Linked DNA regions of Homo sapiens. The protein of the gene in region 4 purifies or fractionates together with the protein of the main gene of each other region. This does not show direct contact. Each region holds a gene or a part of one and is shown on either strand. Other genes may lie near its edges.

Evidence for each region.
Region 1: the proteins of TFB1M (region 4) and ZSCAN5A purify together in Homo sapiens (co-immunoprecipitation; one large-scale study listed by IntAct). This does not show direct contact.
Region 2: the proteins of TFB1M (region 4) and ZNF346 purify together in Homo sapiens (co-immunoprecipitation; one large-scale study listed by IntAct). This does not show direct contact.
Region 3: the proteins of TFB1M (region 4) and MACROH2A2 purify together in Homo sapiens (co-immunoprecipitation; one large-scale study listed by IntAct). This does not show direct contact.

The regions. Positions count from the first base shown.
Region 1 is NC_000019.10:56,218,901-56,227,018, forward strand, and holds the end of ZSCAN5A (zinc finger and SCAN domain-containing protein 5A), read right to left. Parts: intron 6,274-8,118; 5' UTR 6,147-6,273; coding exon 5,763-6,146; intron 4,935-5,762; coding exon 4,731-4,934; intron 3,842-4,730; coding exon 3,691-3,841; intron 3,427-3,690; coding exon 2,675-3,426; 3' UTR 2,403-2,674; downstream 1-2,402.
Region 2 is NC_000005.10:177,044,427-177,052,544, forward strand, and holds part of ZNF346 (zinc finger protein 346), read left to right. Parts: coding exon 1-107; intron 108-6,276; coding exon of another isoform or gene 6,277-6,324; coding exon 6,325-6,510; intron 6,511-8,118.
Region 3 is NC_000010.11:70,057,863-70,065,980, forward strand, and holds part of MACROH2A2 (core histone macro-H2A.2), read left to right. Parts: intron 1-8,118. UniProt on the Homo sapiens protein: Variant histone H2A which replaces conventional H2A in a subset of nucleosomes where it represses transcription. Nucleosomes wrap and compact DNA into chromatin, limiting DNA accessibility to the cellular machineries which require DNA as a template.
Region 4 is NC_000006.12:155,289,447-155,297,564, forward strand, and holds part of TFB1M (dimethyladenosine transferase 1, mitochondrial), read right to left. Parts: intron 7,659-8,118; coding exon 7,507-7,658; intron 1-7,506. UniProt on the Homo sapiens protein: Mitochondrial methyltransferase which uses S-adenosyl methionine to dimethylate two highly conserved adjacent adenosine residues (A1583 and A1584) within the loop of helix 45 at the 3-prime end of 12S rRNA, thereby regulating the assembly or stability of the small subunit of the mitochondrial ribosome.

The DNA.
Region 1 (8,118 bases), on a different chromosome or scaffold from region 4:
TGAAATTAAACGGGCAGGTGGTATTATCAACACATTTTCTACGTCTGTGAAGAAGGTTGGACCCAATCACCAAAAGGGAGAACCACCACCCACCCCTACCTCCACTTCTTGAATGAAAGGGGAGTCTATGTACATTTTATGGTGGATTCCAGGTCCCTGCCTCAAAGAATGCTACTCCGAAACGGACCTGGGTGAGGCAGGATAGGCAGTCAAGGAAATGACCACGTCCTCAGGATGCTGCACGCGTGGTGACTGTACAGTCAACACAGTAAGCCTCAGCGTTCACATTGGAATTGAGTTCATTCAAGCAAGGCCATCTCCAGTAGGGTATTTCCACTGTAGTATTTCCACTGTAGAGAGAATGTGCACGTTGATCTTACCCATCCACAAACCGACACATTTCTTGTTATGATAGTAAAAAACACACACCTGGGCGGGCAGTTAAGACGCTAATGAGACATGTGCACAGCTACTGCACCTGTGTGCCCAGAAGAGCACCCAGAATATGCTTAGTAGTAACACCTCTTCCCACCCCCCTAGGTGTAATCATCCAAGACTCCCATAAAGGGGAGTCTCCCTCAAGCAGGTCTTTGCTGTCTCATCCTTGGGAGCAGCTGGCCCTGAATCCTTGCTCCCAGGATGTCCTGTCTATTCTGCCCTTAACTTTCAAGATATTGTATTTCCTCTGTAATCAATTATTCTATGATGCATCTCTCTGCTGTGGGTCTCTTGATTAAATTCCTTTAAATTAAGATGACAAGAACCAAAGTCTTACAAAAGTAGTCTTTAATAAATGAATCCAGCCTATTTGGGAAGGGACCTTTCCAGACCTCTGCAGATTGCAGGACTCTGCCCGTCAGCTCAATCAGCCATCCATAAAATGTCCTCCCAAGACCAGCAGCATGAGCACCACCTAAAATGTACATTCTCAGGTAATCCCAAACAAGTAAAATCTGAGAAATTGTCACCAAGAGGATCCTAGGGAGACGTGACAACTCAAGGCAATGTGGTGTCTTGGATGGGGAGGAAGGAAGAGGAGGGCATTGTGTAAACACTAAGGAGGCCTCAATAAGGTATGGGCCTTAGATCACGGCAATATATCCAGTCAGTTCATCGCTCCAGTCAGTTCAAAGGTGCCATCCTAATGAACCATGTTGGCAATGGGGGAAGCCATGTGGGGCATTAGGGAGCTCCATGGACTTTAGAAAGCTATTCTAAAATGAATTATATATTTTAATGCACACTCTCAGGCCCCATGCCCGGTCTGCTCAATCAGAAGCTGAGTCTGGGGCCCACCCACCTGAGGATTAACCACGCCTTCAGGGGATGGTAGTATCACTAAGACCAACTAGTCACCAGAGACTCCCAATGCCTCTGTAGTTCAAGAGTCAAATCGGGAATTTAGAGGTTGCCAAATTTAGGCCACAAAATACACCATCTGGGGCAGGGAGATAAATATGCAGAGCAGAGAGGATTCCGGGGGCAGTGAAAATACCCCCCAGGATACTCCAGTGGTGTGTACTCATGAGGCCTTTGTCCAAACCCACAGCACGTACAACACCCAGAGCGAGCCCTAATGAACACTATGGACTCTGGGTGGTGGTGATATGTCCAGGCAGCCTCACTGATGGAACAGGTGCACCACTCTGCTGGGGATGCTGGGCAGGGAGAGGCTGTGTTGTGTGAGGAGGGAGTCTAGGGGAACTCTGTGCTGTCCACTGAATTTCCCTGTGAACCTAAACAGCTCTGAAAAAGAAAGTCTAGAGCCAGGCGTGGTGGCTCACCCCACACCAGCCTGGGCAACAAGAAATCCCATCACTACAAAAAATTATTTCAAAAATTTGAATATCATAATTATAATAAAGTCTAATAAAAACAATACAGGGCACAGCGGCTCATGCCTGTAATGCCAGCACTTAAGGAGGCCGAGGCAGTTGGATCACTTGTACTTCGGAGTTCAAGACCAGCCTGGGCAACATATCAAAATTCCATCTCTACAAAAACCACAAAAATTAGCCAAGTTGGTGGCGTGCTCCTGTAGTCTCGGCTGCTCGGGAGGCTTAGATGGGAGGATTGCTTGAGCCTGGAAGGTCGCGGCTGCAGTGAGCGGTGATTATGCCACTGAACCTCAGCCTGCGTGACAGAGGGAGACGCCATCTCAAAAAAAAAAAAAAAGAAAGAAAGAAAAAAGAAAACGAAAACTCTACAGGATACCCAATAAAAGCTGAGTTTCAGATAAATAAATAATTTAGAACATGCTGATACTAAAGAAAATTGTTTATCTGAAACTCAAATTTCATCAGGCATTATGTATTTTATATGGCCACCCTCCTTGGACAACTGTACTTTACAGCAAAACAGTGGGTAACCCCATGTCAATCAGGAAACTCAGTTTTCCGTTATACAATATTGAAAACTAATAAGATGATCGTTTATTGGAAGAACAGCAACACAAACCAAAATAAACCTATAAGAAAACAATGGACATAATGAAACAGAAAACAAAGCTCAGTGGGGAGGACACATATTTACTCAAACATCCTGGCAATTCATATCTAGGGCACTCCCTCTGTGTGTCAGACGCCCTTGCATGTGTCAAATGTCATCTGATAACATTGATGAAAAATATCATTCACTTCTTCTTGGTGCAGAAGGCATAGACCGGATTATGCAATCACTGAGAAGTAGCTTCTGGATGTGTTTTCTGGTGGCGTCTTAACAATTTCAGCCGACTGAAGGCTCTTGGACACTTGGAACATTTGTAGGGTTTCTCTCCGGAGTGGATGCGCTGGTGCTCCTTCAGGCTCCCCCTGTAGGTGAAAACTTTCTTGCAGTCTTTACATTCGAAGGGCTTCTCCCCTGTGTGGCTTCTCTTGTGACACTTCAAGTAGGACTTCTGGGTGAACTGCTTCTGGCAGACGTCACACGTGTAGGGCCTCTCGCCAGTGTGGGTTCGCTGGTGAAATTGGAGGCTAATAAGCTGCATGAAGCGCTTCCCACAGAGATTACATTGAAAGAGTCTCTCGCCTGTGTGTGATCTCTTGTGGATGACTAGCTTGGAATTACACGTAAACCTCTTCTCGCACACGTCACATGCAAAGGGCGGCAGTGCCTTGGCTTCTTGGCCATCCGGGTGACTGACTGGGCTCGCAGGGCCTGGGGAATGAATTGAATTCATCCCAGCTTGTCCCGGGGATTCTCTGTTGCCCACAGGTGTGGCTTCTCCTTGAGGCTCTTCTTGGGAAATGGAGGAGGCATCTGGTTTGCTTCTTTTGGGACTGCTCAGATTCAGAGCGTCTCCTCTGTTCCCGCTGTGAGTCGAAGCTTCTCTCTCCACAACGCAGGCAGAAGGTGTGTCAGCATCCACATTTTCCACAGAGGCTATTTTTGGGGGGTCCTTCCCCTCCTTTGCTCTCACCAGATCTGCTGGAAGAAGGGATTCCACACACACAGTTAATAAAGCGCATTTTCAATACACCAAACTCATTGCAACCAAACACTGATGTTGGCTGACAACTTCCGCTCAAGCTCAAGCCTAAGACATTGGACTGTAGGTCTCTGGAAAGTAGAGGATGGGGAGGCTTTGACAGCTGAGTGCCAACTCCCCCAGGGGATGATAATGCTGGGCCCCCAGCCCCGCACCCCAGAAGAGAGGGACTAACCCCTGTGGATCCAAGTCTTCATACTCACTGGGACTCTTTGGAAGCTGAGGCTCTGGGGATGTCAGTCCTGGGTTCTCTTCCCTGTTTTCCTTCAGATCCTTCTCCAAGGTCTGCTTGGGTCTCAGAGACTTTGGGTCACCTGTTACGTCAATACTCTTGTGTAGCAGAAAGTCCTCTCCCTGAAGAGGAAAAACCAAGAGTAATGACTGCTGTGTCCAAACTGGTGGAAGCAGGGACACATCTGTCCCCTTCTGATTGGATGCAACAACTCTTCTAATGACACAGGTGTGGAAATACGTGCAGACTTCCCCTGGACCACCCCATCACCCCACGTAAACATCACCATCTCATTTCTGTGTCTGTCCCTAATCTGCACCCTCCATATTCCAAATCAGCTCCTGTGCCTGGTGGTTTTCACTGTTTGGTTCTCTGAGCATATTTCTCCCCGCCGTGCCAACGTCTCCCTGCACCTGACACTGGAAGGAGCATGACTCTAGTCGAGGCCCCTCAGCTGTGGCACCACTGGCATTGGGGCTGCATCACCCTGCTGGAGGGGGCGCTCCTGTGCAGAGCAGAGACCCCACCTCCACCCTCTAGATGCTATTAACACCCCACCATCCCCTACAATGACACACAAAAGCATCTCCAGACATGGCCATGTGTCCGGAAAGGCAGAATCACCCCAGTTGAGAAACACTCCTCAAATTAAGAAATTGACAATCTGTAGAAAATGGTTTCCTTGCTGAATTATTACATTAAATGTCTTTGAGGAAACTGGCTACGGGGAAGGAATCTTCATTCATCTGTGCAAACTGCCTCCCTCATTTCACTGAGATCATTTCTTATGCCCCACCCTAAATGCTAAAAGCTCTCATGGTGGAGAGAAAAGTAGATGAGGCTTCCCTCTCTGTGATGGCTCAGGAATGAATGTTTGGGGATGTATCATGTCCATGGGGAATGGCTCTAATCTTGTCCTGTGTCAAATCTCTCAATCAGTCCAGCGGCCACACGATTTCCTCCTGTTCCTTCTCCCACCTCTGCCCAGACACCAAGGCCTCACACACTCACCTGCCTCCTGGACAATGCAGGGACCCTGGGCAGGATCTGCAGCTCTCGGTGGGCCTGGCCTTCCCCTGGACGCATCTGGTTCACCGAGGAGGCCCGTTGGCTGGACACGTCTTTCAGATCATCTCTGACACTGGAGGGGGCTTCAGCCATCTCGATATCTGAGTCCTGCACAATATATTCCTTTCCGTGGAAGGTGACCACAGACTGTAGAGAGAAAAAAGACAATCAGACTCACCATGAGAACCTGAAAGTAGCTCTCATATTCCCTGGGTCCTGCCATAATGCTCACACTTTACTGTAATTAATGTTCAAATCTGCCTTCCCAATAGAGAGTCAGCTCTGTGGACACAGCAATCCTGTCTGAATTTTTTCCTCTCTAGACTCCAGCACCTGCCTGCGCCTGGAATATTCTAGTTAAGTACATAAACATGGGTCCTTTAGATGAAATAGTCTCTAAACCAAAGAGAAGACAAGGAGAAATATTCTGGGTGAATCCAACTCAATTGGCCGATGGCAGCTCACCTTGTATTAGAACTTAGGGGCTCATTTGGGGACCTGGGGGCAGATCCCTGCATCTGATACCAACCACTTTCCCTGCTTCAGGATGGGACTCCTGGGCCCCCCTTCAGTTCACTCTAATGCCTCCTTCCCTACATTCCATCAGGCCTAATATTTCACCAATGTCTTTCTTTCATGTTGGCCTCACACAGTGTGTGGGTCCCTGTACCCCCTCTGCCTGTCCATCTCCTACACCAGGAACTTGCCGTCTCAGCACAGCTGATATTGGAATCTGGATGATTATTTGTCATGATGGGTTGTCCTGAGCGTTAGAGAACGCTTAGCAGCGTCTCCTGTCCTCCCTGACAACAAAAACTGTCCCCAGACACTGCCATGTGTCCCCGACGGGCAAACTCTCCTCTACTTGGAAGCCCTGACCTAGAGCAGCCCCTCGGGTCCTCTCGAGTCCAGCTGCACCGTGCAGCCCCCATCCCAGCTCCCCTTCCCTGCACCAATCACGAGGGTCCCACTCACCCATTTCTTGGGTCTTCTGTTATTTCGTAGCAGGTCCTCCAGGTCTTTGCAGCTCTGCACACCGTTCATCATGACTAAGACCTGGAGCTCCTGGGGCATGGAGATCATGAACTGCTCCATCACCAGCATGTCCAGGATCTGCTCTTTGGTGTGGAGGTCGGGCCTCAGCCACAGATGGCACAGCTCAGTGAGTTTCCTCAGAGCCTGGATGGGGTCCGACTCCTTCGGGCAGCTGAACATCCTGAAGTTCACGTGAGAAATCTCAGGGTCCACGTCGTGATTTCCAAGTTGAGTTTCTGAGGATGCCATAGACCGTGGCAGCTCCAACCCAGGTCTGTTGCAGGATTCTCCTAGACTCCATGAGGATGTGCAATTTGCAGCCATATCTAGTGGAGAATTTTTTAATCAGTCTCTGAGAAAGCTCTTCCAGTAGCTGGTATCTAATTGATACCTATCTACACAGGCTTCCTCTGGTTTTCCTCAGTAATAGATTCACTGTTCATTCAGAAGTCTGGGGGGGAAAAGTATGAGCCTCATTAGTTTAAGTTACTACTCCATCCATCCCTCCCTTCGAAATCCCTCATCCTGGATGCCACTTCTTCAGCAGCATCGAATTCAGCACAGTGGAAATCTTCCAGTGTCTATACCTGACTACATACTCTGGTTTAAAATCTTAATGACCCCTGGATTCTGATCTCTAGGAAATCACTGTGCAGAGGCTGAATCAGTTTTCCTGTCAATTGGAACAACATTGTTCTTGACTATAAATTAAATAAGATAGTTAGGTGAAGCTCTGAAAATGTGATGCAACAATAAAGTAAGCCCTTTATGTTTCCCCATCAGGACAAGATCCAAGGCAAAGCCCTTAGTCATAATTATGCAAAAGGATAGAGAAAAAGAGTTAGAATGTAATATTTTCCCCAACACATATTCTTGTTAACTCCAGAACATTTACTTGCTCCAGGGAAGGGACAGCATTAAAGGATCCTATGAGGATTAAGCACCTACACAGATATTTTGTTATTTTGGTAAAATGTACATTCATAAATTTCATCATTTTTTACTCTCTTCAAGTTCACGATTTTATGGGACTAAGACATGCACCATGTTGTACAACCATTACCACTGTTTACTTCCAGAATTATCTCATCAACCCAAAAGCAACCCCATCCCCATCAGTGATCACCCCCTGCCCACCCACCCCAGCCCCTAGCAATCACTAATCTACCTTCTGTCTCTAAGGGTTTCTGTATTCCTAATCTCATCTCAGAAAATGGATTTAAAGTCTAGTGCTCTTTGATATTTTAAAGAAGTGGGTTGATACAATAATAAGATTTTTAAAAATTAATTCCTAAACCTAGCTTCATTAGGCAGGAGCCACTGAGTGATACTCTCCAGGCATCAATTATCGTCCAAGTTCAACAGCTATGAGAACACAGCCCTGCTTTCCTAGACACAGGTGGGGGAAGCAACCTGAAGGTCTGCAGAGGGGAGAAAAAACTGGCAGAAGGGTCTTGGGAAAAGTCACTGGTAGCCTGGAGGGCGAGTGCCCCACACTTCCTGGAAGGACTTTGAGCAAGTGCAGAACAGAGAGACAGCCAGGGAGACAATCGGCAGAGGCGGGAGACAACCCAGAGGAGGAGACAATATTTACACACCACACATCTCACGGGGCTCCTGTGCAAAACATAAGCAACTCAAACTCCTCCAGAGCGAGAAAACACATAACCCACTAGAAGGGCTTAAGGCGCCTGTGTGGACATCTCAGATGAAGACATGTGAATGGCCAGCAGGTCTAGGAAAAGGTGCTCATTATCACTCATCATCAGGGACATGCAAATCCAAACCACAAGGCACCCCTCACGCCTGCTAGAGTGGCTGTTCCCAAAAAGACACATGGAACGAGTGTTGGTGAGGATTTGGGGGAAAGGGGTCCTCTGCGCCCTGTGCTGGGATGTAAATTAGAGCAGCCGATATGGGAGACAGTATAGAAGCTCCTCAGAAAATTGAAAGTCCAACAACTGCATGATCCGGCAATCCCGCTCCGGGGCAGGTACACAGAGGAAAGGAAATCAGGACGTGGACTCCAAAACAGTGAAACTCTGGAGGGATAGAGGGAGGGAGGGTTGAAAAACTACCTATTGGGTACTATCCTCATATCCTGGGTGATGGGTAGAGTCATACCTCACACCTCAGCATCACTCAATATACTCATGCAACAAATCTGCACAGGTACCCACTGAATCTAAAACACAAGTTCAAATTACAAAAAAAAATTTAAAAAGAAGTAAATAACATAAATAATAATTAAAAACCCAGTGGAACTCATAGTAGTAGTGAGTAGAATAGTTACCAG
Region 2 (8,118 bases), on a different chromosome or scaffold from region 4:
CATCTGTAACATGACCTTTTCCTCCCCTGTCGTGGCCCAGTCGCACTACCTGGGGAAGACCCACGCAAAGAACTTAAAGCTGAAGCAGCAGTCCACTAAGGTGGAAGGTACTGGTTTTCCTGAGTAGTGCTATAGTGGGACCCCTGCCGTCCTCAGGGCACTACTGCCAGGGGCTCACAGAGATCCTCACTGAGGCCACAGACTTGAAGAAGTTGAATTGCTTTTGAGAACCCTTAAAAATCTCCAAGTAGACCCAGCTTCACTGAAATGCAATCTCAGAATTATGCTCACCTAACCTCCCTTTCTTTGGTTATAGGTTTTTCTCTATAGGCTGAGCTTTTGTCCTGACTAATAATTATAACTCAGGAGTGCCAAAGTCCTCCAGGCCACGCATACCATGAGAGCATTCTATCTCCTACCTCTCCCACTAGATTTTTCCATCCCAGCATCCACCTGCCCTTATTACTGCATGTTCCAAGTTGAAAGCTAAATCCTTGTCTTTTTCACATGCTCAGGTTATGGCCTACTCACTTTAATCCTCAAAAGCTGCCTGTTCTCCTCAAGACAGGGACTTGCCTTTCAAAGCTGAATACTTCAGTGCTGCTACTACTGCCCCACAATCTGTAACTGCCATGAATTCATTCCCAGTACAGTGACTTCTGAAATAGCCCCCTTTATCTCGTCACGACTAGGGCTCAGCCCTCACTTTCATCTCATTAACTCCTGACTTTCTGGGGTTTTAACCTCTGCTAATTGCAATTAGTCAAGAGTGAAAGTTCTTTGATGTTTATTTCATTGTTTTCTTGATAATTTTTGCTTCTCTATTTTGGACCAAGAAGTAGACTACACTATTAGTAATACTATTATCCTTTTTGTGTTTACTGACAACTGTGTTTTGGAAGCCTTCAAAGGTAGGGTGAAAAATCACTCATAATTTTTTTTTTTTGAGATGGAGTCTCGCTCTGTTGCCTAGGTTAGAGTGCAGTGGCATGATCTCGGCTCACTGCAAGCTCTACCTCCCAGGTTCATGCCATTCTTCAGCCTCAGCCTCCCAAGTAGCTGGGACTACAGGTGCCCACCACCATGCCCAGCTAATTTTTTTGTATTTTTTAGTAGAAACGGGGTTTCACTGTGTTAGCCAGGATGGTCTCAAACTCCTGACCTCGTGATCCACCTGCCTCGGCCTCCCAAAGTGTTAGGAATACAGGCATAAGCCACCACGCCGGCCAAAACCTTTTTTTTTAAATAGAGATGGCTTCTCACTATATTGCTCAGGCTGGTCTTGAACTCCTGGCCTTAAGTGATACTCCCATCTCAGCTTCCCAGAGTGCTGGGATTACAGGCATGAGCCACCACACCTGGCCACTCATAATTACACCTTTTTATCACACCCACATCTAGTTATTCATGGTATGAAACAGCAGAATGTGGACTTTGAAGTCACAGAGTCCCAGGTTTAAAGCCTGGCACTGTTACTGTTTATATGACTTTTTTGTGTCTGAACTGCCTAACCTATAAAATGATAATAATACTGTCTACTTCATCGGTTGTGAGGATACAATAATGTGTATTAAAAACACAGGACATAGGCCGGGCATGGTGGCTCATGCCTGTTGTAATCCCAGCACTTTGGGAGGCTGAGGTGGGCAGATCACTTGAAGTCAGGAGTTCAAGACCAGCCTGGTCAACACGGTGAAACCCAATCTCTACTAAAAATAACAAAAATTAGCTGGGTGTGGTGGCACGAGCCTGTAGTCCCAGCTTCTTGGGAGACTGAGGCAAGAGAATCGCTTGAACCCGGGAGCTGGAGGTTGCAGTGAGCTGAGATCGCACCATTGTACACCAGCCTGGGGGACAGAGCAAGACCTCGTCTCAAAAAAAAAAAAAAAAAAACCAATTTTATAAGGTCACAGACTTCTCTTCCCACAAATGGGAAAATTCTCTGCATTATGCCTTGTCCCTGAAATTTCATACTCGAGATTATTTTCCATATTCACTTTCAGCTTTTGCCACATACTTTGTTTTTATATAGTTGTGATCATAATGCAGGTACCCTTTATATCCCGCTTTTACTTTTCATTTAATTTTACAGCTTAAGCACATTTCCATGTTATTACACAACTTTATAACTATATTTCTGAAATTAAACACTTTTTAATGTAAAGTAATATAATCATGTTGTAAGAGATAAGGAAAACATGGATAAATGGAAAGAAAAGTTACCCATAATTTTACCATTCACAGATAAACACTGTTAACATTTTGGTTTCTCCTATAATCTGTTTCTCCTATAATCTTATTGTTATATGTATCTTTGTATATCTGTGTGTATATTCGTTTTGTGTATATCTAGGTTAACTCCGTGTATATGTGCATATAAACATAGACTACTTTAAATAACTTTCATGTTTTTATAAAAACAATGCATACTCATTATGAATAATTCCACTTCAAACAATTGCAAAAGATACAAAGAAGAAAGTAAAATATCACCTAAATCCTACACCAAGAGAGAAATACTGTTAATATGTTGGTGATGTTTTAAAATACCAGTATGCACATATGGATTACACGTGTGGGGTTTTTAAAATTTTTTTATTTATTTTTATTTATTTATTTATTTATTTATTTATTTATTTTGAGATGAAGTCTTGCTCTGTCACCCAGGCTGGAGTGCAGTGGCACGATCTCGGCTCACTGCAACCTCCGCCTCCTGGGTTCAAGCGATTCTTCTGCCTCAGCCTCCCAAGTAGCTGGGACTACAGGCGCGTGCCACCGCGCCTGGCCAATTTTTGTGTTTTTATTAGAGACGGGGTTTCACTATGTTGCCCAGGCTGGTCTTGAACTCCTGGCCTCAAACAATGATCTTACCGTATGGTATGTACAATTGCCTTTTTTGTTTGTTTGTTTTTTGTTTTTTTTTTTTTTTGAGATGGAGTCTCCCTCTTTTGCCCAAGCTGGAGTGAAATGGCGCAATCTCAGCTCACTGCAACCTCTGCCCCACCAGGTTCAAGCAATTCTCCTGCTTCCACCTGCTGAATAGCTGGGATTACAGGTGCCCACCACCATACCCGGCTAATGTTGTTTTTTTGTTTTTTTGAGATGGAGTTTTGCTGTCGCCTAGACTGGAGTGCAGTGGTGCAACCTTGACTCACTGCAACCTCCACCCTCTGGGTTCAAGCAATTCTCTTGACTCAGCCTCCTGAGTAGCTGGGACTACCGGCACCTGCCACCACGCCCAGTTAATTTTTGCATTTTTAATAGAGACAGGGTTTCAACATATTGCTCAGGCTGGTCTTGAATTCCTGACCTCAGGTGATCCACCCACCTCAGCCTCCCAAAGTTCTGGGATTACAGACATGAGCCACCGTGCCCTGCCTAATTTTTGTATTACTAGCGATGGGGTTTCGGCATGTTGGCCAGGCAGATCTCTAACTCCTGATCTCAGGTGATTCACCCGCTTCTGCCTCCCAAAGTGCTAGGATTACAGACATGAGCCACCGCACCTGGCCATACAATTGCCTTCTATATGTTTTTTATTTAATATGACATTTGTATTTCCCCATGTTATTAAAAAATTCTTTATAAGCATTTTTAGTGACTGCATCGTACTACATTTAATATTCGTCTAATGCTGAACATTTAATCTCCCCACCCCCCACTTTTTGGTGTTACAGATAACACTACAGTGAACATCTCTGTAGAACACTTTATTACATTTCAGGTTATTTTCTGAGAACAGACTCTATATCCCTCATTTTATTGGATGCGCATTAAATGGTTCTAGACTTACTTACACTTTCACTTCTGATGCTTCTGTTCAGTATCTCAAAGAATGACCGTTCTCTCTTAACAACCATTATACCTCTTTTCTGATGTTAAAAATCTACATTCATTACAGAAAAGTTGGAAAATAGTAGGCCGGGTGCTCACGCCTGTAATTCCAGCACTTTGGGAGGCTGAGGCGGGTGGATCACCTGAGGTCAGGAGTTTGAGACCAGCCTGACCAACATGGAGAAACCCCATCTCTACTAAAAATACAAAATTAGCTGGGCATGGTGGCGTATGCCTGTAATCCCATCTACTTCGGAGACTGAAGCAGGAGAATCGCTTGAACCCCAGAGGCAGAGGTTGCAGTGAGTCAAGATCGTGCCATTGCACTCCAGCCTGGGCAACAAGAGCAAAACTCCATCTCAAAAAGAAAAAAAAGAAAGGAAAAGTCGGAAAATAGTGAAACACACTCTACTCTCTGTGCTTTTGATCTTTTTTCCATGCTGTCACCTATGCGTTTGTTGTTGTTCTATAAAATTGAGGACATAAGAAGCAGATTGATGTGTAACTTGTTTTTTTCTTTTTTTTTCTTTTTTTTTTTTTTTGAGACAGAATTTCACTCTTTTCGCTCAGAGTGGAGTGCAATGGCGCAATCTCAGCTTACTGCAGCCTCCGCCCACCTGTTCAAGCAGTTCTCCTGCCTCAGCCTCCTGAGTAGCTGGGATTACAGGCATGCACTACCACACCCAGCTAATTTTGTATTTTTTTAGTAGAGACTGAGTTTCACCATGTTGGCCAGGCTGGTCTCAGAACTCCTGAGTCAGATTATCTGCCTGCCTCAACCTCCCAAAGTGCTGGGATTACAGGCACAAGCCATTGCGCCTGGCCTGTAACTTGCTTTTTTTACACTCAACACCACAAACAGAATATTTTCTCATATTATAAAATATTCTACAACATGTACATTACTTTTTTGATGACTTGCTGAAACAAAATCAACAAGCAGAGAAACTGAAATTCCCTATACTAGAAAAACCATTGTGGGAAAGGCCAGCAAATTTCTTCTGGCTTGCCCAAAATCCTCAAAACTTCCCCAGTTGAAGTGATACAGGTATGGAAGAGCATCTGAGACATATCATCTGTGAGTCCTGCTGAGCCCCATCAGTCCTCCACCACTGGTGGGGGCTTCTGGGCCCCACATTTTTAAAGCAGTAGTTGCTAGGTTGACACCATTTCAGCCACATGGACTTGTTAGTGAGTCGTGGCATCCGCTTTATGAGGCAGCAGCGCAGCCTAGAGTCAACATCAAGCCATATGTTGATGCACAAGAGGCTCGCATGTATGCCTATACCAGGCTCTGATTCACTGAATTCATTGGCCAGAATCAGGGATGTTTTCTGAAGGCGTAAGTAAGAGCTATAGCCTTCAGGTCTTCTTGCCACACTGGCAGCCTGGCATAGCAAAGAGAGCACAGGCTTTAGGGTCACAGACCTGGCTTCACTCACTGGCTGGGTCACCTTGGGCAAGCCACTTCACTCATCTGAGCCTCAGTTTTTCTGAATAATGTGGCAAAGTGATACCTACCTCATTGGGGTAGTTCTGAGGACCAAAGGAGAAAATATATGTAGAAAACACATCACTAATTTTTTTTTTTTTGAGGTGGAGTTTCGCTCTTGTCGCCCAGGCTGGAGTGCAGTGGCGCAATCTCGGCTCGCTGCAACCTCCGCCTCCTGGGTTGAAGTGATTCTCCTACCTCAGCCTCCCAAGTAGCTGGGATTACAGGCACACGCCACCATGCCCAGCTAATTTTTGAATTTTTAGGAGAGACAGGGTTTCACCATGTTGGCCAGGATGGCCTCAATCTCTTGACCTCGTGATCCGCCTGCCTTGGCCTCCTGAAGTGCTAGGATTACAGATGTGAGCAAAACGCATAACTAAATGTTAATGGTCCTCTTTTCTCTCTACTCAGCCTATAATATGCAATGTAGCCTAAAAGGCATCCCTAGTATGGTTACCTTTTCTGAATGACCTTGTATGAGCTCCAGGAACTCAAGCCTCAATTTCTGTATCTGTGCATTTGTTCCCAGCTCTGCAACTGTATTACTTTAAGGATGAGAATAAAACTCCCAAACTTCGTGTCCCACTTGCTGTGAAGTTCTGGGAAGTACTGAGGTATCCCTGCAAGAGTGCAAGTGTGCATCTCTAGTCTATTGTAACTTGGCAGCCTGACAGGAGAAGCTCAGGGCCTCCTAAGAATATGAGAACCACCAGGATTTGTGGGCTTAAAGTAGTTAAAGCCGCTGAATGAAATAGCCAGTCTTTGGGCTCCCTCAAATCTTCCCAGGTTTCCCAATTAGAGAATGCATTCACCTGTGTGACTCACACAGGCAGTGCCACATCTGCAGTAGGATTAACTGGTGTCACAGCCCTTTCTATTCAGCATACTCAAAAGCCTGACACCTTCTGGGTTTTTTCATTGTTTCTGTTTGAACTCTCTCACTGCAGCTCTGTCAAAACGCCTTACAAATCCTTTCCTTGTGGCCTCCACCTTAGCCTTGCACCAGAATAGAGAGATGATAGACCCAGACAAGTTCTGCAGCCTCTGCCATGCAACTTTCAACGACCCTGTCATGGCTCAACAACATTATGTGGGCAAGAAACACAGAAAACAGGAGACCAAGCTCAAACTAATGGCACGCTATGGGCGGCTGGCGGACCCTGCTGTCACTGACTTTCCAGGTGAGGGGGCCTAGCTCACACCCAGAGCTGGACCAGGGTTTGGCCACTGGGGCTACCCGGACCAGCTGACGTTGTGCTTTTCCTCCTTAGGTCTTGTAAGTAGGGTTTGCGAACTCAGATGGCTACAGAAGCCAGATGAGAAATTAAAATGAGAGCCAGGAAGGGGATATGGTCAGCTGAAGAGTGAATGCCATTCCTACTCAGCTGTTACCATATCTTTCAGGTTTTCTTTTCTTTTTTTTTTTTTTTTTTTTTTGAGACAGAGTCTTGCTCTGTCACCCAGGCTGGAGTGCAGTGGCGCGATCTCGGCTTACTGCAAGCTCCACCTCCCAGGTTCATGCCATCCTTCTGCCTCAGCCTCCTGAGTAGCTGGGACTACAGGTGCCTGACACCATGCCCAGCTAATTTTTTTGTATTTTTAGTAGAGACGGGGTTTCACCATGTTAGCCAGGATGGTCTCGATCTCCTGACCTTGTGATCCGCCCACCTCGGCCTCCCAAAGTGCTAGAATTACAGGCGTGAGCCACCGCGCCCAGCCCTCTTTCAGGTTTTCAAAAGACTCTGGAAAGCCAGATTTATATAGAAATCCCTCTGTTTTTGTTTTTGCGTTTGTGTTTTTTGAGATGGAGTCTCCCTCTGTCACCCAGGCTGGAGTGCAGCGGCGCAATCTCAGCTCACTGCAGCCTCCACCTCCTGGGTTCAAGCGATTTTCCTGCCTCAGCCTCCCGAGTAGCTGGGGCTACAGGCACACACCACCACGCCCGGCTAATTTTTGTATTTTTAGTAGAGACAAGGTTTCACCATGTTGGGCAGGATGGTCTCGATTTCCTGACCTCGTGATCCGTCCGCCTCGGCCTCCCAAAGTGCTGAGATTACAGGCGTGAGCCACTGCACCCGGCCCCTCTGATTTTTAAATGTGTAACTAAATTAAAAAATTTTTAAGCCCAGCCAGGCATAGTGGCTTATGCTGTAATCCAAACACTTTGGGATGCCAAGGTAGGAGGATCACTTGAGCCTAAGAGTTCAAGACCAGCCTGGCCAACATGGTGAGATCCCATCTCTACTAAAAATTTTAAATATTAGCTGGGCATGTGGCGCATGTCTGTAGTCCCAGCACCTTGGGAAGGCTGAGGTGGGAGGATAACTTGAGCCCAGGAGGTCAAGGCTAAAGTGAGATATGATTGTGCCACTGTATTCCAACCTGAGTGAGAGCGAGAACATGTATCAAAAAAACAATTTTTTTTTTTTTTTGAGACAGTCTCACTCTGTCTCCCAGGCTGGAGTACAATGACACCATCTCACCTCACTGCAACGTCTGCCTCCTGTGTTCAAGCGATTCTTATGCCTCAGCCTCCTGAGTAGCTGGGATTACAGTTATGTGCCACCCCACATGGCTAATTTCCGGCTAATTTTTTTTGTATTTTTAGTAGAGACAAGAGTTTCACCGTGTTGGCCAGGTTGGTCTCGAACTCCTGACCTCAAGTGATCCACCCGCCATGACCTCCCAAAGTGGTGGGATTAGAGGCATTAGCCACCAAGCCCAGCCAAAAAAAAAAAAAACTATTTTTAAACCCTGTGTAAGTCAGACCTGTCTGCAAGCCAGATTTG
Region 3 (8,118 bases), on a different chromosome or scaffold from region 4:
TAAGTAGGTACTATTACTACACCCATCACAGGAAAACGAAATGGTGGGGGGATGGTGAAGAACATGCCCCAAAGTCACCACACAAGGGACTCCAGGCCAGGCAGCATGACCCCAAAGCCCTACATCCTTATGCCCACGTGGTAAGAGCAAGGAGCTGGTAGCTTTCCGATGATTCTCAGATGATACTCAGCTTAATGTTTGTGTAGGCAAATTTTTATTTTCAAAACTTATTTGTCTCACTACTTTATCCAACTATGACAAATGAAAGAATATGAGACTGAGCCACAGAACTCTGTACTTTAAGCTGTCTTGTCACAAAGTATTAAATAAGATAAATTTGGTGGTTTCTCTGAAGCCCTTACTGTTCATTTATCCATCTCACCATCCATCATACTTTGCCCGATTTATTTGACTGGCATTGCCAATTTGGACTTGGAATGGAGTAAGTAATTCAAGTCAAAATTCTCATGCTTTGATAGAAATGTGTGTGGAAATATGCATAGACCACCAGTGTACAGACATTTACTCCAACTGATTCTGAGATGTCAGAAGGGTTAGATACACTGACCACATTTATTCACTCAAAGTTACAACACATGATCTGGCCAAAGATTTAGGGGTTGTTTCTGGATATGAAAGGCGGTCCTGATGATAAGAGTTTAGATGCCCAAATTTGGGATATTTCTATGACAACAGGATAAAAGCAGCACAAGATAAAATCAAACCTACCCTGGAACCCAGGCCCCATGCTGGCTGGGCTGGCACTGCCAATTTTATATATATATATATATACACACACACAGAATTTTGTAACTTGTATTTTGCGCTCCTGCCTTCACTGCTCAATAAGACCATTAAAATTAAATAGTGGTGGTGGACCACAAAAAGGCAAACCCCAATAGCTTATACAATATGCAACATAAACTTTTAGGTCAGGTGGTAATTCACTGGGTTGCTCATCCCGAGTGGTAAACTTCCAAATTGAGCTTTCTTGCAGAATTTCAATGAAGTGATCATTGACTTAAGTCCCCCGTCCCCCCACCACCCCGCCAACAACCCTATCACGACTAAACTGAATTTTCACCTCAGCTGTTCCATAGTAAACAATGTAGATTATTGTTTTGGGGTGAAGAAAAGGCAGTCCTAGATATAAAATCAAGCAGATTTTTTCAGGTCCAGTTTTTCTTTTCTGTGGTTATCCTGGGTGAAGAAATAGCAACTTCAAAGGACAGATCCTGTGAATGTGACTTATTTATCCTGGTTGCTCTATCTCTGTGAATGTAAGTGACAGGTGGGGCTCAGAGGGAGTCTGTTTTGAGCATCTTATAGGTTGGAGAGGACCTCAGAGGTGAGCTGGTGCAATGGTTCTCAGGTGGGGCTCCACAGAACCCAGTGCTCCTTGGAGGCCCAAGGCAGGAAAGGTGGCGACCAAGCTGTTGAAGTTCCCAGGCACTTGCCCACTCCAGCCAGGACAGCTCCCCTTGCATCTGTTTTATATATTAGAGTATAATTTCTTTTTTTTTTTTTTGAGACAGAGTCTCACTCTGTCACCCAGGCTGGAGTGCAGTGGCGTGGTCTTGGCTCACTGCAACCTCTGCCTCCTAGGTTCATGATTTTCCTGCCTCAACCTCCTAAGTAGCTGGGATTACAGACGTGCGCCACCACACCTGGCTAATTTTTGTGTTTTTAGTAGAGACAGAGTTTCACCATGTTGGCCAGGCTGGTCTCGAACTCCTGACCTCAAGTGATCCTCCCGCCTCGGCCTCCCAAAGTGTTGGGATTACAGGCGTGAGCCACCGCGCCTGGCCTCCTACAAATTTTTGTTCAAGCAAAAGGGGAACCCTACGAGGTCTACTGATTTGCCTACAGGCCACAGCTAGTCACAGCCAAACTGGAGGCTCCCTCCCCGTGGTCCACCGCACCTTCCATTCTACCACCTTGATGCCCCCTTGAACTTTGGCAGGTTTCACCCACAGAGGGGATGGTGTGGTGTGGCCAGTGGCTGGTTACACCCACAGAGAGGATGGTGTGGTGTGGTGTGGCCAGTGGTAGCCCTTAGCTGAAGCAGCTGATACAATGTGCCGGGGCCCAGGAGCTACAGGGGACCCACACGTGCATAACCAGGGAGCAACACTGCCTGTCAAGAGCACAGAACATAGAACTGCAGCAAAAGACCCAAGCCACTTGTCCCCACAGTGCAGCCACTGCCTGAGGACTGACAGCAGGGCCAGGTGCGGTGGTTCACGACTATAATCCCAGCAGTTTGGGAGGCTGAGGTGGGCGGATCACTTGAGGTCAGGAGTTGGAGACCAGTCTGGCCCACATGCTGAAAACCCATCTCTACTAAAAACACAAAAATTAGGGGGGCACAGTGGTGGGCGCCTATAATTCCAGCTATTTGGGAGGCTGAGGCAGGAGAATCTCCTGAACCAGGGAGGCAGAAGTTGCAGTGAGCCAAGATTGCACCACTGCACTCCAGCCTGGGCGACAGAGCCAGACTCTCTTAAAAAAAAAAGAAAGAAAAAGAAAAAAGGACAGACAGCAAGAAAAAATGGGTAGGGAGGTGCAGGCAGAGAAAGGGATGGAGGAAGAGGGGTTCCAGAGCAGTCTGTTGTTCTAGCTTTGAGAGCAGACAACTGGCCCCACTGATGAACTCAGTTGCTCAGCAAACATGGATGTCTCTGGAAGCCCCTGGTGGATCAGGCACACCAAGGCATACAGTCCACCTGCTGTCTGGTACTGGAACACTCACCCTAGCCCCTAACGGTGCGCCTGCACACCTCTACTCCCATTTGGGAATCTCATCTTGGCTCAGACAAAGCCAGTGCCCTGCTCAGAGAAGTAAAGAATGTGCTGCTTATAACAATAAACTGCATTACTAATTTGGATCTGTTAGATTTGCAGAAAACAAGATAGTTTAACCACTGTTATACTTGATAAAGAACTTATTTAAATTAAAAGAAAATCTTGGTCAAGCTGGTCTCAGTGGCTCATGCCTGTAATCTCAGCACTTTGGGAGGCTAAGTTGGGAGGACTATTTGAACTTAGGATGTCAAGGCCGCAGTGAGCTGATTGGGCCACTGCACTCCAGCCTGGGTGACAGAGACTCTGTCTAAAAAAAAAAAAAAGAAAAAAGAAATATTGGTTTAAAGAAACCAGACTACTTTGTCTTTTTATGAAGGCCATCAGCATGTTAAATAAAGTTTATCCTTTCTCCCCAAAAGCAATTCATTCAATAAGGGCATGTGCTAAGGGGTTTTTCTTTCTTTCCTCTCCTCCCTTCTGAGATCCCAGTATAATTTTAAATATTGTTTATGGAAATCCCACTGCTCCTATTTGTCAAGCCTCAAAGAACAAAAAGACAAGAAGAGACCAGGCTGGACCCAGTGAGGGTGTTTTTGTTTTGTTTTCTGTGGATGAATAGATTCAGGAAGGCAAACTGGTTCATTTTCTGGTTGGCTTTCTTTAGGAATGCATTGCTAACTCAGATTCAAAGAAAACTAAAATTATTTTCATTCATTTCTCATCCAAGTACCACAGGTGGCCAAACGTATTTATATTAGAAAATAGCATAAGGCCAATAATAAAGAAACAAGCTACATTATAGATCAACAACTTCTGCATTTCTCTTTTTTAAAATAACCACAGCTCAGGTTCAACAGAGACAACAAAACATGTTAAAATGTCTTAGTATCCTGCAGTAGCAGCAGATATCCTAAATCTACCCCTTAAATGCCCCTACCCCTTGTCCCCAGCTCCTCTAGAGTGACCACACATGCTCTGCCTCTGAATGACAAAGAATGTGCCGGCAGTTGAACTTCCCACTACACGACGTGACTTGAAATACTTTTTTAAAAGGGAATGATTTGTTATCCAATAGTATAATTTAAATAAATTGGATTAATGCTTGGTTCTAACATTCATGGTTGGTTAATTTGGTTAATTTGATCTGCGTGCCATTTTGATGAAATTGCATTTGATATAGCCCTTTACGTTATAAATTGTTAATGTGCTGTAACATATATGACGATAAAATTATTGACTATTCTCATTCACTTAAAGGTGGCCTTGAAAGAAAATGGTTTGGAAAGTATTATACTATAATGATTTGCCCTTGGAGTTCATAAATGGAAGTGTAATAGAGCCAGTGATTTAGCTCTTATTACTGAAAATGATTTTTACAGCTACAAAATAATGCTAACAAACTATTATTATTTTAATACAGTACTTAGGGTAACACACCAAAATACAGTCAAACTCTATTAGGTGGGAAGCTAAGATTTTTTTCATACCCTTTAAAATATATTTCAATGTATAGTTAATATATTTATATTGAATCCCCTCATTTCCTACCTAGTTTTGTTTTATTTCATCTCAATGTATTCTCCCAAAGGATTATTCTGAACTGACAAAGATGCTTCATTGCAGTGTCTCCATCACTTTTCATAATATTTGCAATATAAAATATTCTGAAGCACAATACCACAGATTAGGGAAATATCATAGAGGATAAAAATGAATAAATTGAATAAATTTCAGCAATTTTAAAACAGTACATGAGTCCATTAGGGATGACACTGTGAATTTCATGTTCATGAAAACAATGTTTAAAGTTTTTTTTAAATTTCAATTCCATCATTAAAAGCTCTAAGATCTCTTATTTCTAGATTTAAAATAATGTATGATGAAAGCATTTTGATTTGCATACTTCTGAAGAGAATGATCTCGAAAGAGTGCTTTAAAAATAAGCCGTCTCGTGAGTCTAGATCCTTTGTCAAGGTGATTCATCGGTGTGACCGAACCCCACCTGTGACACCCTGGCCTATAATTATAGCTCCCAATCCTCAAATTACTGACTGCTGTCTCTTTTTCAAAGCCTCGTTGTAGAAGCTTGACTGTAGAAAAAAATGGTCATTTAAGTCAGGATGCTGTTGTATGTTCTCACCCATAAGTGGAAGCTAAACTGTAAGGGTACAAAGGCATCAGAATGACATAATAGACTTTGGGTACTCAGGGGAAAGGTGGGAAGAGGGTGAGGGATAAAAGACTACAAATCAGGTTCAGTACACCAAAATCTCACAAATCACCACTGAAGAACTTACTCATGTAACCAAATACCACCAATAAAAAATTTAACAAAAACTAAATAAATAAATAAATAAATCAGGATGCTGGAGCTGTCTAATGGCCCACCTTGCTGGCTGGCAGAGGGTTTGTTGCAGCCCTCCACAGTTTACAAAAAAAAAAATTAAAATGTGGAAAAGTTGAGGTGTAAAATGTGGCTCAACGTATATCAGCTCCTTATACTTGATAAAGAAATTATTTGAATAAAAAGAAAATATTGGTCTAAAGAAACCGGACTATTTTGTCTTTTGATGAAGGCCATCAGGGTGTTAAATAAAGTTTCCTGTTTCTCACCAAAAGCAACTCATTCAATAAGGGCACATGCTAAGGGGTTTCCTTTCTTTCCTCTCCTCCCATCTGGGATCACAGTATAATTTTAAATATTGTTTATGGGAACCTCATATGCTGCAATTGTGCAAATACAGACACACTGAGTTTGATTCTATTCTATTCAGGAGGCTTTATCGTCTCTTGATGCAAAATTTTATATTCTTCAATTATCTCAAGACCGGTTAGTTTTCAGTGACTCACCTGGTGATGAATGTGATCTTAATTTTTTAACACGACATTATTACTCAATTATAAAACAGTTGAGCTGTTTCTCCTCAGCAGCATACTCATTTCTAGGCTGATCCACAAATGACGTTTGTTAAAATGTTAAAGTCAAATGACATTTTCAGTTTCCAGTTCAAAATGATGGACTGAGCACATGTGCTTTCCTTCAAACCCCTCCTCTCCAGAGCCACAGAAATAATGGTAAAGAAGTACAAATAAAATAAACAATAACAAAGGGGTAGGGGCTGGTGTGGTTAGTCAACAGCAGACGGGAGATTGCAAGAAATTTCCAGAAGACTGAAAGTACATAAGAACATATGCACGTCACAGGGGAAGCCACAACTGAGAGTAAAAGCAAGAGGGAACTGCGGCGAAGGTGGGGAGCGTGATAAGTGGGGACTCATTGAAGGCCTGTTTCCAGGACAGCTCGGTGAATTATCCTTTCTCCCTCCTTTACTACTAGAAGAGTTTCCAGCAATTTGGTGTTTAGCCCTTAAGCTAACAATCTGAGAGTTCTTCTCTAAAGCAATCAAACAACTACAAGAGGCTGGGCATGGTGGCTTATGCCTGTAATCCCAGTATTTTGGGAGGCCGAGGCAGGCAGATCACCTGAAGTCAGGAGTTCGAGACCAGCCTGTCTAACATGGTGAAACCCTGTCTCTACTAAAAATACAAAAATTAGCCAGGTGTGGTGGAAGGCTCCTGTAATCCCAGCTACTCAGGAAGCTGAGGCAGGGAGAATTGTTTGAACCCGGGGGACAGAGGTTGCAATGAGCCAAGATTGCGCCACTGCACTCCAACCTGGGTGACAGAACAAGACTCCATCTAAAAAAAGATTAAAAAACTACAAGGCACACGTAGAATTTCTAGGATAAATATCACACCACAAAATAAACCTCCCTGCTCATTCTGGCATTTGGGGGTTCTCAGTTCCTAACTGGACACCCTAAAGCCATGCCTGCTGATGTGGTTTGGCTGTGTCCTCATCCACATCTCAACTTGAATTGTGTCTCCCAGAATTCCCACATGTTGTGGGAGCGACTCAGGGGGAAGTAACTGAATCATGGGAGCTGGACTTTCCTGTGCTATTCTCCTGATAGTGAATAAGTCTCACGAGATCTGATGGGTTTATCAGGGGTTTCTGCTTTTCCTTCCTCCTCATTTTTTTCTTGCTGCTGCCATGTAAGAAGTGGTTTTTGCCTCCCGCCCTGATTCTGAGGCCTCCCCAGCTATGTGGAACTGTTAAGTCTAACGAAAACTCTTTTTGTTCCCAGTTTTGCATGTGTCTTTATCAGCAGTGTGAAAATGAACTAATACAACTAGTTCCTAACTGGACACCTAAAGCCATGCCTGCTAATTGAATGCATGCCCTGCACACACACCCGGAGATCCCAAACAGGAAGCATGCCCACCAACCAATGGTTGAAGAATTCAAGAAAGCTCTTCTATCTGCCTATAATCATCAATCTTGTCCTTCATTCTTTTTTTTTTTCTTTTTTTTTTTTGAGACAGAGTCTCACTTTCTCGCCCAGGCTGGAGTGCTTGAAAAAGGATCGTTGCAGTGGCAGGACCTTGGCTCACTGCAACCTCTACCTCCCAGGTTCAAGTGATTCTCCTGCCTCAGCCTCTCGAGTAGCTGGGATTACAGGTACAGCCTCTCTAGTAGCTGGGATTACAGGCACGCACCACCACGCTCAGCTAATTTTTGTATTTTTAGTAGAGGCAGGGTTTCACCATGTTGGCCAGGCTGGTCTCGAACTCCTGACCTTAAGTGATCTGCCCACCTCGGCCTCCCAAAGTGCTGGGATTATAAGCGTAAGCCACCGCGCCCGGCCTTGTCCTTCATTCTTAAATACAAACGCATAACCAAAGATCACCAGACATTTAAGAAAAGCCTACATGGAAGTGAAAGATGAAAATCAATCAATAAATAAATAGAACAACTGCCTGATAAAATAATTTAGAGGACAGAAGATAAATTTAACACATTCTAATTAGTTTCAGAGAGATTTGAAGACATGGTGCATTCATTAAAGTACAGGATGCTATAAAAAAGGAATAACCTGAGAACAAAAAGAGCTCTTGGAAATTAAAAATATGATTACCAAAATTAGATAAAGACTGAAGAAAAAATAGAAGAAAAAAGATAAGAGACTTGGACTATTAATCCAGGAGATCCAATACCTGGTTTACAGGAATCTCAGTAAGAGACAAAGAAAGGGGGTATTGGGAGAAATAAAGAAATTGGCAGTGGGTTGAGGGGGGAGGGATAATCAAAGACATAATAGAAAAAAAATCCATGTTATAAAAGTCTAAGTTTTCAGGTTGAACCAACTTATTGCCAAATGCTGAGCAGGGTTCAATGACTTCAAAATATTGAAGCAAAATGATTTTGACACTAAAAATGTTAATACTCTACTAAATGATAACCTAAAGATC
Region 4 (8,118 bases):
TTAGATGGGATTAGTTCTCACTTACTGCTTAACAGTCTGATTATATTTTATGAACTGTAACTTCATATTGTCTATATGTCCCTTAATGCATATGAGCTGAATTCTTACACTTAGATCCTGTAGTGCTAGAGACAGGAATAAGACGACGGTGCTCATTTATTTCTGTTTTGTAATTAACAAAGCCAATCAAAGTAAATGTTAAAAAGAGCTTCCTGTGGCTAAAATACAAAATTACATATACAGCCATGTCAAGAGTAAATGGCATATAAGAAAATGCTGCTATATGAAATGGTGCGAATTACTGTCCCTGCCCAAATCTCGCCAAATTGTAATCCCCAATGTTGGAGGAGGGGCCTGGTGAAAGGTGATTGGATCAAGGGGGCAGATTTCCCTCTTGCACGACAGTGAGTGAGTTCTCATGAGAACTGCTTGTTGTAAAGTGTGTAGCACCTCCCCACTCTCTTCCTACTGCTCCAGCCACATAAACCATGCCTGCTTCCCCTTTGCCTTCTGCCATGATTATAAGTTTCCTGAGGCTTCCCCAGCCATGCTTCCTGTAGAGTTGCAGAAATGTGAGCCAATTAAACCTTTTTTTTAAAATAAATTACCCAGTCTCAGGTATCTCTTTATAGCAGTGCATAGAATGGACTAACATAGGGGCTGGGCGTGGTGGCTCACGCCTGTAATCCCAGCACTTTAGGAGGCTGAGGCGTGTGGATCACGAGGTCAGGAGATCGAGACCATCCTGGCTAACATGGTGAAACCCCGTCTCTACTAAAAATGCAAAAAATTAGCCAGGCGTGGTGGTGGGCGCCTGTAGTCCCAGCTACTTGGGAGGCTGAGGCAGTTGAATGGCATGAACCCGGGAGGCGGGGCTTGCAGCGAGCCGAGATGGCACCACTGCACTCCAGCCTGGGTGACAGAGCGGCGAGACTCGGCCTCAAAAAAAAAAAAAAAAAAAAAAGAAAAGAATGGACTAATATAGTATATATATATTCTCCCACTGAAACTTTCACTTGCAAAATGTGAAAATCAGAGGACCAGTGTTACCTAGACTTCTAAGGCATTCCATAAATTATAGACTCTATATAAACTCTTCTCAATATTCATGCTAAAATTGAACTAAAATCAACTTTTTTTGTTAAAGAAAAAGAATTGCATATGGTGAAGTCGAAGCAACACTATTATTAATAACCACAACTGACATGCTGAGTCACCGAAAATATTACTCCACCTCTTCTTAAGCCTCTGTTTCTTTGTGTTTCCCCCCACACAAATAGAGTACATAGTATTTTGTATCTCTATTGTGTTATTCAAGAGCAGAAATACCAAAATAATCATGTCGGCTGAGAAAAATAAATCCACAGATGTGGTTTAATAAGAAATATATTTGGACTTTGTCGCTGGCTCCTAAAGCCCTTGAAATTTCCTGAGTAATCGGCATGTCTTGCTTTAAATTCACAAGTCCCCCAGAGTTTACAGTAATGAGATAACTTAGGATGAGGCCTCTAGGTAGCTCAAGATGGGGCTGGTCACTGAGACCAATTGATTACCCATTACTCAAGTGTAGGTAAGGTGTTTCCCTGAGTTTTTGAGCCATTCTGAAAAATGATTCAATCTGAGGAGGGGGACATGGAACCCTCTGATTTATTTTATAGCTGGTCGCTCAGAACTCCTAGAGGCCCAGATTTGTGACTGTCATCTGAAGTGAGGCGCAGTCTTGTGGGACTTGGCCCTTAACTTGTGGGATCTAACACTAAAAACATGTGGACAGTGTCAGAATTGAATGAAACTGCAGGATACCCAGCTGGTGTTCGGAGAATTGGAGATTGCTTGGTGTGGAAAAAACCCACACATCTGGTGTCAGAAGTTGTATAAGTGCAGAGGAAACAAGAATGGTTTCTGTCAGAACCAACATATCCAAAGGTTGAGAAAAACAACAAAGAAAACTCAGCATGGGCCCAATTCAAACCAACCCAAGAGAATTAGCAGGTTCATGAAGAGGAAATGACAAAGACCTTAAGAAAAGTGGTGATATCATCTCAGGGTTCCTAACAAACATGCAACGGTCCTACGTTTTTATGATGGGAAGTTCCAAGACTCCTGAGAGAAAGATTTTATGGCCAAATCATCTAAAGGAAAGTTTTCCAACCTTGGCATGACTGACATCTTGGGCTGATTAATGTTGGGTGGTTCTTCGCTGTGGGAGGCTCTGCTGTGCACTGAAGAATGCTTCCCAGCATCCCTAACCTTCTATCCACTAGAGACCAGAGCCCCCTCCCTGGTGTGACAACCAAAAACATGTCAGACATTGCCAAATGCCCCTGAGGAGCAGATAAGGCAAAAGTGCCCTTGTTGGAAATGATTCCCCTAAACAGAAACAAGGGTAAAAAGAGAGGGATAGATCTAAGAAATGAAATTCTTATGATACACTCAAATTATCTGAGAGGAAGGCATTTAAAGAATTAAGCTTATGTAGTAGTAGAGTCTATTGATTTCAAACAAATTCTGGCATTAAAAAGTTTTGTTCTGAAACAAGTATAAAGCTGAATAAGTCATAGGAAACAAGAGTTTGCATAAACAGGACAACAGGTGGAGCAGGACTGTCATTACTGAAATGGAAAGGAGATGAGCCTTAGATGCCCGGCCTGAAGAGGACTGGAGGCCCTTCTCAGGCTGCAGCAGAGGCAGGGGGCAGCTCAAACTGAGCCTAGAGGTCTCCTGGGCTCAGGGAGCCAGACCTGGAGATCTGGGAGGCCTCGGCAGGCAGAATTTGTGGGGCAGACTACCAGAGACATGGAAAACGCACACACGCGGTGCTCACACGTGTGCAGGAGCAGCGGGTGGGGGAGACAGGAACAGGAGAGGGAGAGAGAATGTGAGGCAGAGCTCCTGAGGTAGCAAAAGGGTCCCAAGGGTCCCCCAAGTCCCCTGCTGAGCACTGATCTGCAGGTGCCTGAGGCTTGGGAGCCTGAACTAGAACCAGGGGAAGGCAGGAGCAACTGGGGCTCACATGGCTCAAGAGGCCTTGTAACATGCAGGGCGTTGGGTGCCTTCCTCAGAAAGGGCATGATGTAGTACTGGGGCTCAACGAGCCCCAAATTAAAAGCTACCCTGGATCCACCAGAACAATAAAAGCCTCAAGCAATCTTATCTATGTGTCACAACAAACCCAACACTCAACCCAATACCACAAAATCCAGCCCTCATCAGCATTAAAAAAAATAAAACTCTCACAATACCTGATGTTTTGTCAGAAATTATCAGGCTTTCAAAGAAACAGAAAAATGCAACCTATAGCAAGAAGGGGAAATCAATCACTAAAAGAGTACAGAAATGATAGAGGTAATGAAATTAGCAGGCAAGGATCTTAAAACAGCTACTTATTTGTTCAATTTTTTGAGACAGGGTCTTGCTCTGCCGCCCAGGCTGGAGTGCAGTGACATGATCACGGCTCACTGTAATTTGATCTCCTGGGCTCAGGTGATCCTCCCACCTCAGCCTCCTGAGTAGTCGAGACCACAGGCATGCAGCACCGGACCTGGCTAATTTTTTATTTATTTTTTGTAGAGACAAGGTAACATAGGGAGCTATGTTACCCAGGCTGGTCTCGAACTCTGGGCTCAAGCAATCCTCCCACCTTAGCCTCCCAAAGTGTTGAGATTACAGGTGTGAGCCAGCACGCCTGGCCAAAACATCTACTTTAAATATCATACATACATACATACATAGAAAAATGCCAAGGAAGGCATGAATGTAATGAGGACAGAAAGAGAAGATCCAAAGACCCAAATGGAATTTAGAGATAATTTTTTTTCATAATAGTTAACCAAATATCCATGCATTTACTTAATTCTTTCCTTCACTGCTGATTTTTGATCTGACCATTATCAGATACTGCTAAGGTGTCTGCATCGGGCTTTCTAGTCTAGTAATTGCTCTGTCACGTGCTGCTTCTCATACTGCTTTAATTATTAAAGCTTCACCATACATTTTAGCATATGACAAGGAAGTCTTTTCTCATCACTCTCCCTTTTCAACATTTCTTATGTATTGTTGCAGGTCTATTCCTCCAGATGATCCTTAGAACTGCGTATTTCAAGATAAGTTCTTTGAGGATTATAATTAGATATACAGAATTCTTGGAAAAATCAGCTTCTTTAAAATAATCATTTTTCCTTCTGGGGCTATGATATTTTTCTGGATTTATCTCAGTGACCTTGAGATTCTCAGTTAGGTTTTGTAGTTATTTTTATATATGTCTCTCATTTTTTCTTAGGTTTTCAAAATAATTATTTATCTCCAAATAATATTTTTGTACTTCTCATTCCAATAATGGTATATTTCCCTTGATTCACTCCCTGTTATATTTAGTTTTCTATTTATTTATCATGAATTCAATCTTAAACTCTCCTGAGTTTTTGCAACTTTTTTTTGACTCTATGCAAACTTGACAGTAGTTTTATCAAATTCCCCTTTTAATTGGCTCCAATCTGGACTGGTTGTTCTTCCTGAGGACTCCTTTCTCTCTGTCCTGTAGGGAGCCCTCTGCTTCCTGGATTTCATGTCATTTTTTTCTTGATGTTTCTAATCAGACCAATGCTTATATGATGTATCTAACCAGACCAATGCTGACAGAGGTGCTGACAGGGATCAACGAGGGCTGACTTGTGAGTAAATGGAGCTAGGTTAGTTGGGACCCATATGTTAAAAATAGTAAAATTGCTTCTACTTCACTATACACAGAGATCAAACCCGAGTGGACTATAGATATAAATGTGAAAGGTAAACATAAAGCTTCTAGAAGATAACAGAAGAATATCTTCATGAACTCAAGATAAAAGTGTTTCCTCAACAAAACACAAAAAGCACTAGACATAAATTTAAAATTAAGAATGCTTGCTCTTCAAAAGACACCATAAAAAGAAAATAACAACATGCAATAGAGTAGAAGAAATGCTCAACACATTTAACTAAGGACTAGTATGAAGAGTATTAAAGAGTATGTGAGAACTCCTCCAGATCAGTAGGAAAAAGATAAGCAACCCAAAAGAAAGGTGAGCAAAAAGCATGCACTAAAAACAAGGAACTCAAAAAGGCCAGTAAACACACAATAGTGCCCCATTTTGCTACAAACCAGCAAGGACAAAAGAAAACACAATGACATTCCATTACCCTGAGATTAATAAAAATGTACAAGTCTGGCAATAGTGAGTACTGGCAAGAATATGGAGCAAAATGAACTCATACACACTGCTGGTGGGAATATAAACAGGCGTGATGATTTCAGAGATCAACTTAGCATTATCTATGCAGTGGTGAAGATTTGCAGTTCCACTCCCAGGTAAATACCCTAGAGAAATGTTGCCCATGTGCCCCAACTGACACAGTATGGGATGTTTACAACAGTTTTGTTTGTAAAAACAGAACGATGAAACTAATTCATGGTCCACCAACATGAGAATGAATAGATAAGGATCTTACACAGTCAAATAGTGGGTAGTATATATAGCTACCTAAATAAACTACAGTCATAAGCAACGTCAGTGAATCCTACAAAGAATGTTCAGGATAAAAACAATACATACTATATGAATACACATTATATAAACCCAGTTGTCAAAAGTGGACAAAACTGGGCTGGGCGCAGTGGCTCACGCCTGTAATCCCAGCACTTTGGGAGGCTGAGGCGGGTGGATCACGAGGTCAGGAGATGGAGACCATCCTGGCTAACATGGTGAAACCCCGTCTCTACTAAAAATACAAAAAATTAGCCGGGCGTGGTGGCGGGCGCCTGTAGTCCCAGCTACTCGGGAGGCTGAGGCAGGAGAATGGCGTGAACCCGGGAGACGGAGCTTGCAGTGAGCCAAGATCGTGCCACTGCACTCCAGCCTGGGTGACAGAGTGAGACTCTGTCCAAAAAAAAAAAAGGACAAAACTAAAGTGTATTCATCATAGGAATATAAATCTGTGTGATAAGACTATGCAAGGGAATAAATCCAAAATTCACAGTAGTGATCACCTTACTAGCATGGGATGGAAAGGAGATGCAATCAGAGTAAGGAATACAATGGGGTCTCAAAGGTACTAGTGATTTAATTACCCATGTTGGGGGTGGGGATTCAGGAGTTCCCTTTATTAAGTCATCCATGTACATGGGGATTCAGGAGTGCCCTTTATTAAGTCATCCATGTACATTATACAGTCATCCGTCAGTATCTGTGGGTTCCATATCCATGGATCCAACCAATCCCAGATCAAAAATATTCAGGGAATAAAAAAGGATGGTTGCATCTGTACTGAACATGTACAGATTTTTCCCTTATCATTATTCCTCAAATAATACAGTGTAACAACTATTTATAAAACATTTATACTGTCTTAGGTATTACAAATAATGTAGAGATGATTTAAAGTATATGGGATGATATGCACAGGTTATATGCAAATACTACACTGTTTGACATCAGGGACTTGAGCACTTGTAGATTTTGGTATTTGTGGGGGTTCTGGAATCAATCCCCTATGGATACCAAGGGATGGCTGTATACTCTTGTACTTATATGTCATAATAAAATTTTTTTAAAAAACCACTTAAGAGTCTGCACATCCGTCCTTATACCTTTGCAGCTCAAGCACCACCCCTGCTTACCCTGGAGGGTTTACTTTCTAGAGTGAACCCAGAACACTTCTGCCATGGGAATGCAGGCATAGCAGACTTCACTGAGGTGAGGGAGGAAGTACAATTTATATACTGAATAATGAGACCCTCAATCCCCTTCTCTTTCTCAGCTCCAAATTGATTATCACATTCTTCCCGCATGCCCCGCCGAGACAGAGTCTTGCTCTGTTACCCAAGCTGGAGTGCAGTGGCACGATCTTTGCTCACTGCAACCTCCGCCTCCCAGGTTCAAGCAATTCTCCTGGCTCAGCCTCCTGAGTAGCTGGGATTACAGGCACCCCCCACCACACCCAGCTAATTTTTTTTTTTTTTTTTTTTTTTTTGTATTTTTAGTAGAGACGGGGTTTCACCATGTTGGCCAGGCTGGTTTCAAACTCCTGACCTCGTGATCCGCCTGCCTCGGCCTCCCAAAGTGCTGGAATTACAGGCATGAGTCACCATGCCCGGCCAATTATCATATTCTTTAACTGCCATGCCATTAAGCCTAAAGGATCAATTTTAAGGTATCACGTGCCAATCCTGGGTATGGCCAACAGGGCATCACTTTTGTCTTTCTCCAGTGGCATCGATGGCTGTTGCATCCCTGTGTTTACCACACTACCTCCTTGGCTAACATACATCATTCATGTTTTCCCAGAAGCCCACAGCAGTTACATCTGTCATCATCATCAAAGTTTTAACTTTTGGCTGAGCTGCTGCTGGGTTCTTGTGTGTGTAATAAGATATTAACTTAGAAAACACAGACTGTGGTAAAAATGCAGTATTATTATTTTGCTTTGGAATTTGAACATGTGATAAAATAGTCACAAAATGTTAAAACTTACCTCTGCCACTTCCTTTTGAAAAGTCAAAGTCATCTGAGTTCTGCCATAAACAAAAGGTCCATCTCTACAGGAAATATTTTCAAGCCACTTGATAATCAGTGGAGTTGAAACACTAAAAGGCAGATTTCCAATAATATGTACATTTGGAGGATCTGGTGGCAGAGGAAAAAACAACCTGAAATGATTCCATCAATATATTCTGAATACAATTTCAGTGACGAGTAAAATCAGACTGGATATTAATAGCATCAAAGAAAAATATATAAATAGACATGGCTAAATTTTTTTTTTCACTTATTATTCAAAAGCAATGTTTTCTCACAATCTGCTTTGGATTATTGAGGAAAAAATTATACTTAATTACTGCTCAGTTACTCAGAGAAAAGTCCTTGAATTTCTGGCCTAGGAAATACAGGAAAAAGAGTTGGCTTGAGGAAAAAGAGAATTCATTTTGGACATGATGAGGTTAAAGTGCCTATGGAACACCTAGATGAAGCTGTCAGAGGTCAGATGCCCAGGAAGGGGGTACAGGCAGCATATAAAGATGTGAATGTCTGCAATACGTAGGTGGTAAGTGAAACCATAGGAATGGAGTAATCTGGCAAATTTGCC